Linked DNA regions of Homo sapiens. The protein of the gene in region 2 interacts with the protein of the main gene of each other region in a biochemical or structural test. Each region holds a gene or a part of one and is shown on either strand. Other genes may lie near its edges. The genes, in order: MAST3, FRMPD4 and SLC15A5.

What was found.
Region 1: the proteins of FRMPD4 (region 2) and MAST3 interact in a test that uses a peptide from one of them, tested with the Homo sapiens proteins (one large-scale study listed by IntAct).
Region 3: the proteins of FRMPD4 (region 2) and SLC15A5 interact in a test that uses a peptide from one of them, tested with the Homo sapiens proteins (one large-scale study listed by IntAct).

What each region holds. Positions count from the first base shown.
Region 1 is NC_000019.10:18,100,747-18,104,399, reverse strand, and holds part of MAST3 (microtubule-associated serine/threonine-protein kinase 3), read right to left. Parts: intron 1-3,653.
Region 2 is NC_000023.11:12,718,820-12,722,472, reverse strand, and holds part of FRMPD4 (FERM and PDZ domain-containing protein 4), read right to left. Parts: intron 1,945-3,653; coding exon of another isoform or gene 1,940-1,944; coding exon 615-1,939; 3' UTR 1-614. UniProt on the Homo sapiens protein: Positive regulator of dendritic spine morphogenesis and density. Required for the maintenance of excitatory synaptic transmission. Binds phosphatidylinositol 4,5-bisphosphate.
Region 3 is NC_000012.12:16,275,498-16,279,250, forward strand, and holds the start of SLC15A5 (solute carrier family 15 member 5), read right to left. Parts: upstream 2,189-3,753; coding exon 1,828-2,188; intron 1,029-1,827; exon of another isoform or gene 696-1,028; intron 355-695; exon of another isoform or gene 1-354. UniProt on the Homo sapiens protein: Proton oligopeptide cotransporter.

The DNA.
Region 1 (3,653 bases), on a different chromosome or scaffold from region 2:
ACCAAGCTGTCACGATGGGAGGAGAATAATCTACCCCTCGAAGGTCTCTCTGACTGCTTGAATATGTCTGAGGACAGACAACTCACGGCGTTTAGTTCAAGCAGTCATGGTGATGGAACCATCACCACCATCACCGTGGCCATTAGGGTCTCCTTCTTCCCCTTCCAATAGTTGTGGGAATTTTTTTTTTTTTTTTTTTTTTTTTTTTTTTTTTTTTTTTGAGACAGCGTCTGGCTATGTCGCCCAGACTGGAATGCAGTGGTGCAATCTTGGCTCACTGCAACCTCCGCCTCCAGAGTAGCTGGGATTGTGGGCATGTGCCACCACACCCGGCTAATTTTTGTATTTTTTATAGAGATGAGGTTTCACCATGTTGCCCAGGCTGGTCTTGAACTCCTGGTCTCAAGTGATCCACCTGCCTTGGCCTCCCAAAGTGCTGGGATTACAGGCATGAGCCACTGCACCCAGCCAGTTGTGGGATCTTATACCACTTCCTCCACTACCCCACGTGAAACAGGGAGGGATTTGAACCCTGGTGGGGGGTCCCACTTGCACCCCATCCAGGCATTTCCTTCCAAAACTCTGACAGTCCTAGGTTCCCAGTCTGGCTCCCCCACTCCTGCACTGTGTGACCCGACAAGTGACTTAACCCCTCTGTGCCTCAGTTTTCTCATTTGGAAAATGGCCCAGTGACATAGGGTCCCTGGAGGAATCAATGAGTAGCAAGCTCAGAGCCTGGTGCTGGGGGAGACTTGGATGGATGGGAGTCAAGACAATGATCAAGACGTGAATAATAACCACCAGTTGAAAGTTGCTTCCAAAAGACAAAAAGATGTGAATATTTTGTTTGTTTGTTTGTTTTCAGATGGAGACTTGCTCTGTCGCCCAGGCTGGAGGGCAATGGTGCGATCTTGTCTCACTGCAACCTCCACCTCCTGGGTTCAAGCGATTCTTCTGCCTCAGCCTCCCAAGTAAGCTGGGATTACAGGCGCCCACCACCACGCTTGGCTGATTTTGTATTTTTAGTAGAGATAGGATTTCACCATGTTGGTCTGGCTGGTCTTGACCTCCTGACCTCAAGCAGTCCTCCCATCTCGGCCTCCCAAAACGCTGGATTACAGGCATGAGCCACTGTGCCTGGCCTGAAGATGTTTTTTTAAAGTGGCAGAGAGAGGTGAGGCAAAATCGGCAGCTCCCTGCAAAGGCTCCCGGGGAAGCTGGACCACACAGAACTCTCCTGGCACCACTCCCGGACCCTTCGGTCCCCGCACCATCTGCTTTCCACCCACAGCTCCCTCTGTGCCTGCTGTTCCCCTGGGAGTGGTTCCCACCCAGAGGAGTGGAGGTTGGGGAGGCCCCGACCCCCTGAAACTGCCCTTTAAAGGTAATATTTATGGTATACCCGTCTGCGCTTGCCCAGGCTGGGGGATGCTGCCTCCCCAACAAGCTTTAGCCCCACCTTGAGGAAATCCCATTTTGGAGAAGACATAGCACAGCAGGAGCACCCCCATACTGGAGGGATTAAGAGAGACCCGAAGCAGCTGGGTGCTGTGGCTCATGCCTGTAATCCCAGCACTTTGGGAGGCTGAGGCGGGAGGATCACTTAAGATCAAGAGTTTGAGCCAGGTGCGGTGGCTCACGCCTGTAATCCCAGCACGCTGGGAGGCCAAGGTGGGCGGATCACAAGGTCAGGAGTTCAAGATCAGCCTGGCCAACATAGTGAAACCCCGTCTCTACTTAAAATACAAAAATTAGCTGGATGTGGTGGCAGGCGCCTGTAGTCCCAGCTACTCGGTAGGCCGAGGCAGGAGAATCCCTTGAACCCCGGAGGCGGAGGTTGCAGTGAGCCAAGACCACACCATTGTACTCCAGCCTGGGTGACAGAATGAGACTCCGTCTCAAAAAAAAAAAAAAAAAAGGTGGCCGGGCGCAGTGGCTCATGCCTGTAATCCCAGGACTTTGGGAGGCTGAGGCAGGCAGATCACCTGAGGTCAGGAGTTCGAGACCAGCCTGACCAACATGGAGAAACCCCGTCTCTACTAAAAATACAAAATTAGCAGGATGTGGTGGCGCATGCCTGTAATCCCAGCTACCTGGGAGGCTGAGGCAGGAGAATCGCTTGAACTCGGGGGCAGAGGTTGCGGTGAGCCGAGATCGTGCCATTGCACTCCAGCCTGGGCAAGAAGAGCGAAAGAGTGAAACTCCGTTTCAAAAAAAAAAGGCCAGGCGCAGTGGCTAACACCTGTAATCTCAGCACTTTGAGAGGCCGAGGTGGGAGGATCACGAAGTCAGCAGATGGAGACCATCCTGGCTAACACGGTGAAAGCCCGTCTCTGCTAAAAATACAAAAAATTAGCCGGGTGTGGTGGCAGGAGCCTGTAGTCCCAGCTACTCGGGAGGCTGAGGCAGGAGAATGGCATGAACCTGGGAGGTGGAATGAGCGGAGATCACGCCACTGCACTCCAGCCTGGGCGACAGAGCAAGACTCCGTCTCAAAAAAAAAAAAAAAAAAAAAAAGAGTTTGAGGCCATTCTGGCCAACATGGTGAAACACCATCTCTACTAAAAAATATAAAAATTATATTAGTCGGGTGTGGTGGCGCTCGCCTGTAATCCAGCTACTCAGGAGGCTGAGGCTGTGAGAATCGCTTGTATCCAGGTGACGGAGCCTGCAGTGAGCCAAGATGGCGCCACTGCACTCCAGCCTGGGCCACCGCACTCCAGCCTGGGCGACAGGGCAAGATCCTGTCTAAAAAAAGAGAGACTCAAAGGGAGAAGAGGGGTTGGAGGCACACAGAGAGGAGAGCTAAGGGGCTTCCTGGAGTAGGGGGTGTCAAACAAAGCCTGCAGGCACATGGAAAACACCAGTCCATGCCCAGCAAACAGCACGTGCAAAGGGAGGTGAGACTCAGCCTGCTGGGCACCAAGCCCGGTTGGAAGTTCGATGCCCCTGGAATTAAATGGGAGAGAAGTCAGCATGGACCACATGGCACCAGCCCCAGGGCTTCCAGGAGGAGGAGGAGGAGGAGGAGAAGGAGAAGGAGGAGGAGGAGGAGGAGGAGGAAAATAAGTGGAAGCTGTCCATGAGAAAGCAGGATCACCTTGGAGGGCTGAACCTAGAGGAGCCACCCCAGTAGCGGCAGAGACAAAAGTCCAGATACAGGCTCTAGCCCTTCTCTGCCGGGGGATGCTCTGTTTGTGGGACCTGGTGTTTTGAAATTCGGTCATGTGTAAAGCAAAGGTCCAAGTAGGAGATGATAAATGTAATAAGATAATAGTAGTAGTAGTAATAACAGCTCACGTTACCCGGTGCCTGCACACGTTATGCGTGAGGCTGAGTTTAACCCAAATTGGGAAGGTCTCCACCTCCTCCCTGGACCCAGGGCTGTCGCAAACTGGCCGCCCGCGGGCCAGGCCGGATCCTTTTTCAGACCTTTCCTGCACACAGCCAACAGCACGCCTCACATTGTCACCACCGGAGAGGACGCCCTGGGCTATGCGTCTGGATTGGCCGGTCAGCACCCGTTTGTGAATGGACTCTTTGGCCTTTGGCCTCCAGGAAATCTGATTGGCTCGCATCAGCGATCTACCCCCTGATTGGCTGGGGTGCTCCTGGACCATTAACAAGGTTTCCAGTCAAAAGAGACCCCAAAC
Region 2 (3,653 bases):
TAGCAAAAACCCAAATTAAATATGTGGGATTCTTGGAAGAAAGCATCCAGTAACCAAATACTATGAGCAAAAAATTAATTTATTACAGATATATTCTCTAGTAATTCATAATAGCTTCTTGAATTTTAAATGTCTTTTTGCTATTTCCAATGCTTAAAAATCATAATTTTAAAACATAAGTACTGTTTTATATACATTGTGATTTCTTTTCTTTTCTCTCTCTTTTTTGTTTTGTGTTTTACTTCTAAATATGAATGATATGGTTTCCAAGTAGCTACTTGGAAAGAAAGGGGATAGGATTCATTGTTTTGCTCTAACATGGTAGAATTTAAAATTTCACATCATATACCTGGAGTTTTAACTATATGAAAAATAGCCAAATGTCATCACTTTCTTGGATATTTCTTTTACGTGTATATATATGTATAATATAAACAGAATACATCTGATTAGTACATTTCAACATTTCATCAATGTGACTTTTATCTCCTATTTTATATAAAATAACAAAATATACAGAGAGAAGAAAGGAGACATCTGTTCATCATACACACAAAGTAAATAAAAGTTCATGTATGGCTTTGCAAAGGTAGATTATGACGTGACTTCCATATTTATTTGTTTAAAAGCCTCTTGAGAGAACGTGTCAGTGTGCTTACGAGAGCGGCCATGGTGGTTGAGTGTCGCGCCGAGAGTCCAACATTAGGGTCCCCAGGGTTCTTTCCAGTGGCTGCTTCGGCAGCTTTCAGTAGACAAATGTAATTTATGACCACTTCATCGATCTTCCCTACAATTTCCTGCCGCTGTGTTTCTGAGTTCACGACTTTAACTAATCGCATGCAAGCTTCTGTTAGGCAACAGAGCACTTGAAAGCTGGAAGTCATAGCTAGGAGCATCTCCTCCGGGCTTTTCTCAGCCATCGCCATTTTCCTACAGGCACTTCCCAACTGTCTGGACTCAATGGATAACAGTTGCTTGTACTGAGAAAGTGTAAGGTCGTACGCTTCAGGGCGTGACTCCTCCCTCTTCTCCTTGGTTGCCCTGACGAGACAGAGCAGCTCATTGGCATCATTTTGGGCTGCAAGGAACCCATCAGGCATTGCATATGTGCTCTCCTTTAGGGCATTTATTCTTGCAATCCGGGCATCAAAAGCCAGGTTGCTGAAGTCCAAGTCATCTGGGTCTCGCAGGTCTTCTGCCCAGACCTTCAGCACTGACCCTCTGGATAGCTCCCCTCGTTGCTTCTGAATCGCCACAGCCAGGCATGGGCTGCTTGGTTCTGGCATGGCTTGAGTCATCTGTGGTCTATAGAGGCAAGAGACCTGGACGGTGGCCTCTCCCCTCTCCTCTTCTTCCTCACCATCTTCATCCTGCCCTCGGTTCAGGAAGCAATAGCTGAAGGGTCCCCGGCATCTCCAATTGCTGCCCTCCAGCTTCCGCAAGGGTAATGTCCTATACAGCTTTGAGTCTTTATGAGCCACTGGGGACCTTTTGTGAAACCTCCCCTCAGAGCTCAAGTGCATTGAGCTTTGGGAAAAACTTTTGGTGAGCTTCCTCCCCAGGGGGAGTTCTGCTCGCCTTTCAGAACTGGCCTCCTGTGCTTCTGTGATGCCTGGACACTTTAAGCTGACTGCACCCTTGGTTCTCTCTCGGAAGGTCTCCAAATCGACAGATCCGGAGAGGATACTGCTGCTATGTCTCAGAGCCTTCTGGCTGGGAGGTGTCCTGAGGCTCCCCCCTCTCAGATCCGGTGGCCGCCAGCTCACAGCCTCTCCGTATGCCTGATTTGCTTGGGAGAAATCATTAGGGTCTTGATTTGGAATTGGCACCTTTGATTCCGAGTGAATGTTTGATGGTAGCAGGATGGGATCAGCTTCAGGATGTTGAGACCAAGCTGAAGGCATGCCTCCTCGTCTCTCCTTCCCAGGCTCTGTCAAAGCTACACTAGGGGTAGTAGAAAAACAGAGAGAATCATTAAGCATCTCCTGGGAGGTCATTTTTACTACATCTCTACATGATGTCTGTCATTTCTCAAGGTTGTAGTCTGGAAGGGCTGCCGATGCTAAGGTCACCCTGCTTTCCAAAGACTGCCTCTTGATATCTCATAACAAATTTCCATTTTAATGAATATCAAGAAAATACTGGAATCTGTTATTTCTGGAACTGCTGATTCATTTGGAATTGTCTAGAAATCCCAAACATTTTCAGGGATTTCATGAATTGCCTTACTCCCAATATCTACCCATCAAAGCTTAGACACAGAAAACAACTGTGTATAGATTATTCAAATATATTGGAGATATTAAGTTTCATTTCAAGGGAATTAGGTTAAATCTGGCATTGTTACTTTTCTTTTCTTTTCTTTCTTTCTTCCTCCTTTCTTTCTTTCTCTTTCTTTCTTTCTTTCTTTCTTTCTTTCTTTCCTTTCCTTTCCTTTCCTTTCCTTTCCTTTCCTTTCCTTTCCTTTCCTTTCCTTTCTTTCCTTTCTTTCTTTTAAAGAAGTGGCCTAATTTAATTAGTGCAAATTAAATAAGTGAATCTTTTTAAGAAGTCAGCATGAGGTTTGCCTGGTAAAAGTCTGAAGTTGAAACACTGGGCCAGTTGTTCAACATTTTTTTTTTTCTTTAAGAAAAGCTGTCATGTGAAGCAAATAATCCCCATCTCACAGAATTTTTGTGAGAAGCAAGAGGTAACTCAGGTGAAAGTTCTTTATAAATCATGAAGGATTAAACAGTGTGACTTAGTTTAGAGGTAAAGATGCAGTTGGGTGATGAGTTAGGTGATATTCACAGACAGCTTTTCCAAAGGAGGTAAAGCCAGTGGTGGGTTTTGAGAAAGTAGAAAATCTTAAAAGAACAGGAATAGAAAATGACCAATATAAGATGTCACTAACTTCCATTGACCTGTATGGAAAAGACACTATTGATGACATAATTTGAAACATAAAAGTATGAAAGAGTATCTGCTTTTGCCATGTGATGGCCAGCCAAGTGGATCGGTGAGGGGAATGCCTGCCATTGAGTGGTGGAGTGGTGAAGGTGGGATACAGAAGGTGGATGTGTTCTTTTTTCTACGTGTGTTTACACTTTATTATTTTGGGGAAAATAAAGCAGCTCATCAGGAATAGCCTCAAAATCTTCCTGACACTGGGGTATGCAAGACACTTCAGAACATCCATATAGAGCAGTCTTACAGAGTAGGGAGGAATCAGTAAGATTGCCGAAAGGCAAATGATCTCTCCAAACCCCTCCAATCTCCCTGATACCCTGCTCTCTTATCCTTCCTTGTCCCTCAATAATGAAATGGCAGAATTAGAACTCAGATGTCTTGGGAAGAAAATCAAACTGTTATGTGACTCTAAGCAATACTATCATATAACTAAAAGTCACACTGGGCATTGCTAAACATCTGCATTTAGAATTTAGGAAAAACATATTGCCCCATCCAATTCTGAAAGCAAGCACAGAGTAAGATTATAAAGAGCAAATGCCATTTTCACCTTTATAATCTTTAGTATTTATTAAATACCAGGGGATCAATGATTGGTACTTTACAGTTCTGTGGCCTTTTAAAATTCTACCTTTTACTTTTCTTCCAGACATTACGTTTTTAAGTTTGTTGTAAATATGGTTTACATGCTCTTGGCATGTCAT
Region 3 (3,753 bases), on a different chromosome or scaffold from region 2:
GACTGACTGAGAACTGGCAGCCGAGTAAGTAGGCCATTGGAATGGTTAAAAAGAAGAAAGCTGCATTTTTTCAGCTAGGGTAGTAGCAATTCAGACAGAAGACCTTTCTTATATATAACCTCTGAAATTTAGTGACAGTTGGAATTTGATGGCAGCTGTAAGTGGAGGGCAACAAAGAAATAACTTTTAGTAAAAAAATGAATGGATGTAGAGTTGACTTAAGTCTTTTGTTTGCCAGATTCCAAAGTTGGGATTTCCATCCTGTCTGATGACTGACCTCAGAATTTAGACTGATAGAAATTACCATGTTAAACAAGAAGTCAACAAATGCTACTGGTGTGGCCTGTTACCAAGGTAAGCAGAGTAAGTTAGTCTGGGATTTGCTTAAATGTCTTCTTATCAGAAAACTTTTTCTCGGTACCAAGTAGCAGCCTCATCACCATCCATTCCATCCTGTCCCCCTACCCAGCTTTATTTTTCCATCCTAACTCATTGCCACATGACATCATATCTATTTCCTCTTTTATTTTCTCTCTCCCTGCACCAAAAAGTCAACTTTAGCAGGAACAGACGACTTTCTTCTCTATTGCATTTCCAGACCCAGAATAATGTCTGGTACAGAGTAGTCAATAAGAAATATTTGTTGAATGTTGAGTGATTATTTGCCATGCAGTGACCTAGTTTTTATTCCACAGAACTAAAGCTGTGAAGTTTCCAGGTTTGACTTAAACTCCAATGGATTCTCTGAATGGTAATTTACCACCTGCCTGAGATTGTGTGATATGTTGAGTACCTGATATCTATCCATCTCTTTCTCATCTGTCCCCCTACCAATACTCATTTCAGCTGCACTTCTCATTATTGGTGAACAGCATGCTATATTCCCAAGTTGCTCAGATCAGAAACTTGGAGCTAATTTTTGACCCCCATCACATTTGTACCTTTATTTAGTTGCCTTACAGCTTTTCACTTGTTCTCTCCTGAATTGGCACTTTATTGCTTAAACCATCATCCTGAGATTTTCTGATCTCTCTCTATTTAATTCCTCACTGTGGTTGTCCATCCTGTATTGCAGAATAGCATTTCTCAAATGTTGTTTTCATGATATTTTCAGAGACTTCTTGTTGCTTAAGAAGAATAACTTGAACTTTTCAGTTTAAAATTCTAGTCTGTTCTTCAAGTTGCTCTCTATTTCTTATTAAACTATCTTGATATTTTCCCAGCATTTCTCACAATCGGTCCCAAACTTTTGCAGATATATATTAGTATATATGTAAAGATGCACACTATAGTGTCTAATTTACTCATTTCTAAAGCATATAATCATAGTTAAAAATATAGAAATCATGCCATCATATGCAATCTTAATTACTATATGACTAATTAAAAGACCACCTTTGGATAAAAACATTTCTCAATTATTTTACATGAACTTCAAAAACCTTTTTTAGCACATTTCATCTTAGTTGTGAAGCAAATACATTTCACATTTCTGAGGGAATTTGTCATGAATTTAGGCTTGAGGTAAAAAGGTTTTGGGAAAGGAGGGCATTCTAAGGAGTAAGATAGATATGTAAAGGAGTAATTATTATAAAATATAAATGCAATGATATAGGCACAAAACATTCTCTAACACACACACACACACACACAGACTTACTAGCATTCTTCAAATAGTACAAAGAATGAAATACATTGAACCCACATTCTTACTTCATTTATCACATTTTATGCTAAGAGCAGAGTGAAAATAATATAAACTAAAAATTCTAACAAAAATCTACTTAATTAAGTCACAAAACAATCCAGTCAGCAGAGGACACTCACCTAGAAAATGTAGAAACAAGCAAATGTACACCAGTTTGTTTCTTCCTAAATAGACATCAGTGAGCCATCTGACAAACACAGGGGTAAGTATTGAAGTTCCAATAAAACACAAGTTTAAGATGGCTGCTTGGCAATTGTGATAGCCAAGCTTGATAGTGCAAAAGGGGATCATGTTGCAGACGACTTCAAAGAACGTGAACCTCTCACACAGCTCCACCAGAAGCAAGCAGATTCCAACCTGAATTTTTTTCACAGAGTGTGAGGAACACAAATCGCCAATATGTCTTACAGTTTTCTCCTTCTCAATGCTGTGATATAAGTGTACTTTCTCATCAGTTATGGTAAAGCCTGTAACAGACATGACTACCCTCCTTGAACAAAACTTATGTTAGTGGTTTGAACTTGGTGATATTTTGAGCCCCATCCCTCTGATGAAAAAAATAAGAACGTTGCTTTGAATTTCACATCTCCATGCTAGAATTTCATAAGGTTTGTTTTTTGCACATGGACGTTGTTCCTTTTGATGATCCAAGAGCATGAGTATTTAAATGTTCACAGTAGCTCAGTGTACCCAAATCTGATTTGTTTGCTTAATTACTTAGCGGCTAAATTAGGATCGTCCTCCAAAATTGTATTGAATTACATGAATCCAGTTGCAAACATGTGGAAACTCATCTGCCTCATACTGATAAAGGTTTAAATATTGAGGCAGAAGAAGCAGGTTTTCGGGAGAATTTGAGCACTAGATCAAGAAATAATTTGAGTCTAATAATTTCTGATACTTTAATTAAACAAGCCAGAACAGTACCAAGAGATAAAGCGCAAAAGGAAATCTGTTTTGAAGGGCACGATATCTTATCATTATTACATTTCTTGTTATTTTTGGTTGGAATTCTGATAAGAAACTTAATTAGGTAACAAAAGTGCTAGTACATTTAGGTAACAAGCAGAGTTTACAAGAAAGTAATTTAAGTGCACTAATGAAAGGAGAAAATATTAAACGAAACCCTGCTTCCTTTTAGTTGACCCCATGCTTGTAGAACAGCCTCTCAGAGGAAATCAGAATCAAAAGGTGCTATTTAACTCCTTTATTATTAATCAGTAGTCAGGGATACAGCAACCAGCCTACACAGGCTTTGGGGAATATTGGATCTGGTATCACCCTGACCCTTCAGCTGGGTGAATGGGTGTTAGCATTCTATTTTGGAAAGCAGGAGGGCCAATTAAGCTAAAAAAGCAGCAGTGAAAGAGAACACCTTAACATTTAGTGGCTTAGCTGCAAGGACATAGGAAGAAAAGGGACCGGAACTATTGGGTCAAAGTCATAATAATTCAACACTTGAGTATAGGAATGTTATTTTCATGCTGTAGTCAAAACCTAAAGACCAATAGGGACTTTTGACTCTGGTTATCATCTTTTGGTTGTGAGAGACTGGGGGCAAAATACTCTGTTTTGACCCCTTCTAATAGCCTCATTGTAATGGTAGCTATTTGTCTCTGCTCAGCATTGCTACTTTGGTAACGATGCCCTAAATTTCCTTTGTGTAAATTGATCATGCAATTTATGATCCAAACTTGGACAGTTTTGTGCAGGTGAAAAGTGATGCTATTTATGGTTACTCCCCAAAAAAAAAAAACAGTTATAAACTGGGACTGTCCAGGGCAACACTCTAACATGTGTTCACCCTACCTTTGGAGAATGACTCCTATCTATTACCTGAGATCATGGTGGGGCTGTTGATCAGCATATGCCTTTTCTTCTAACCAAGTGGGTCAACACCCGGTCTAAGATAGTCCTTTTACTTTTCTCCTGTGGAATTTTAATCTTGAGTGGAATGACTTAAGAATGGGCATGGTGGCAGCTGAGTTATTCAGATGGCAGTGTATTAGTCTGTTTTCATGCTGCTAATAAAGACATATCCGAGA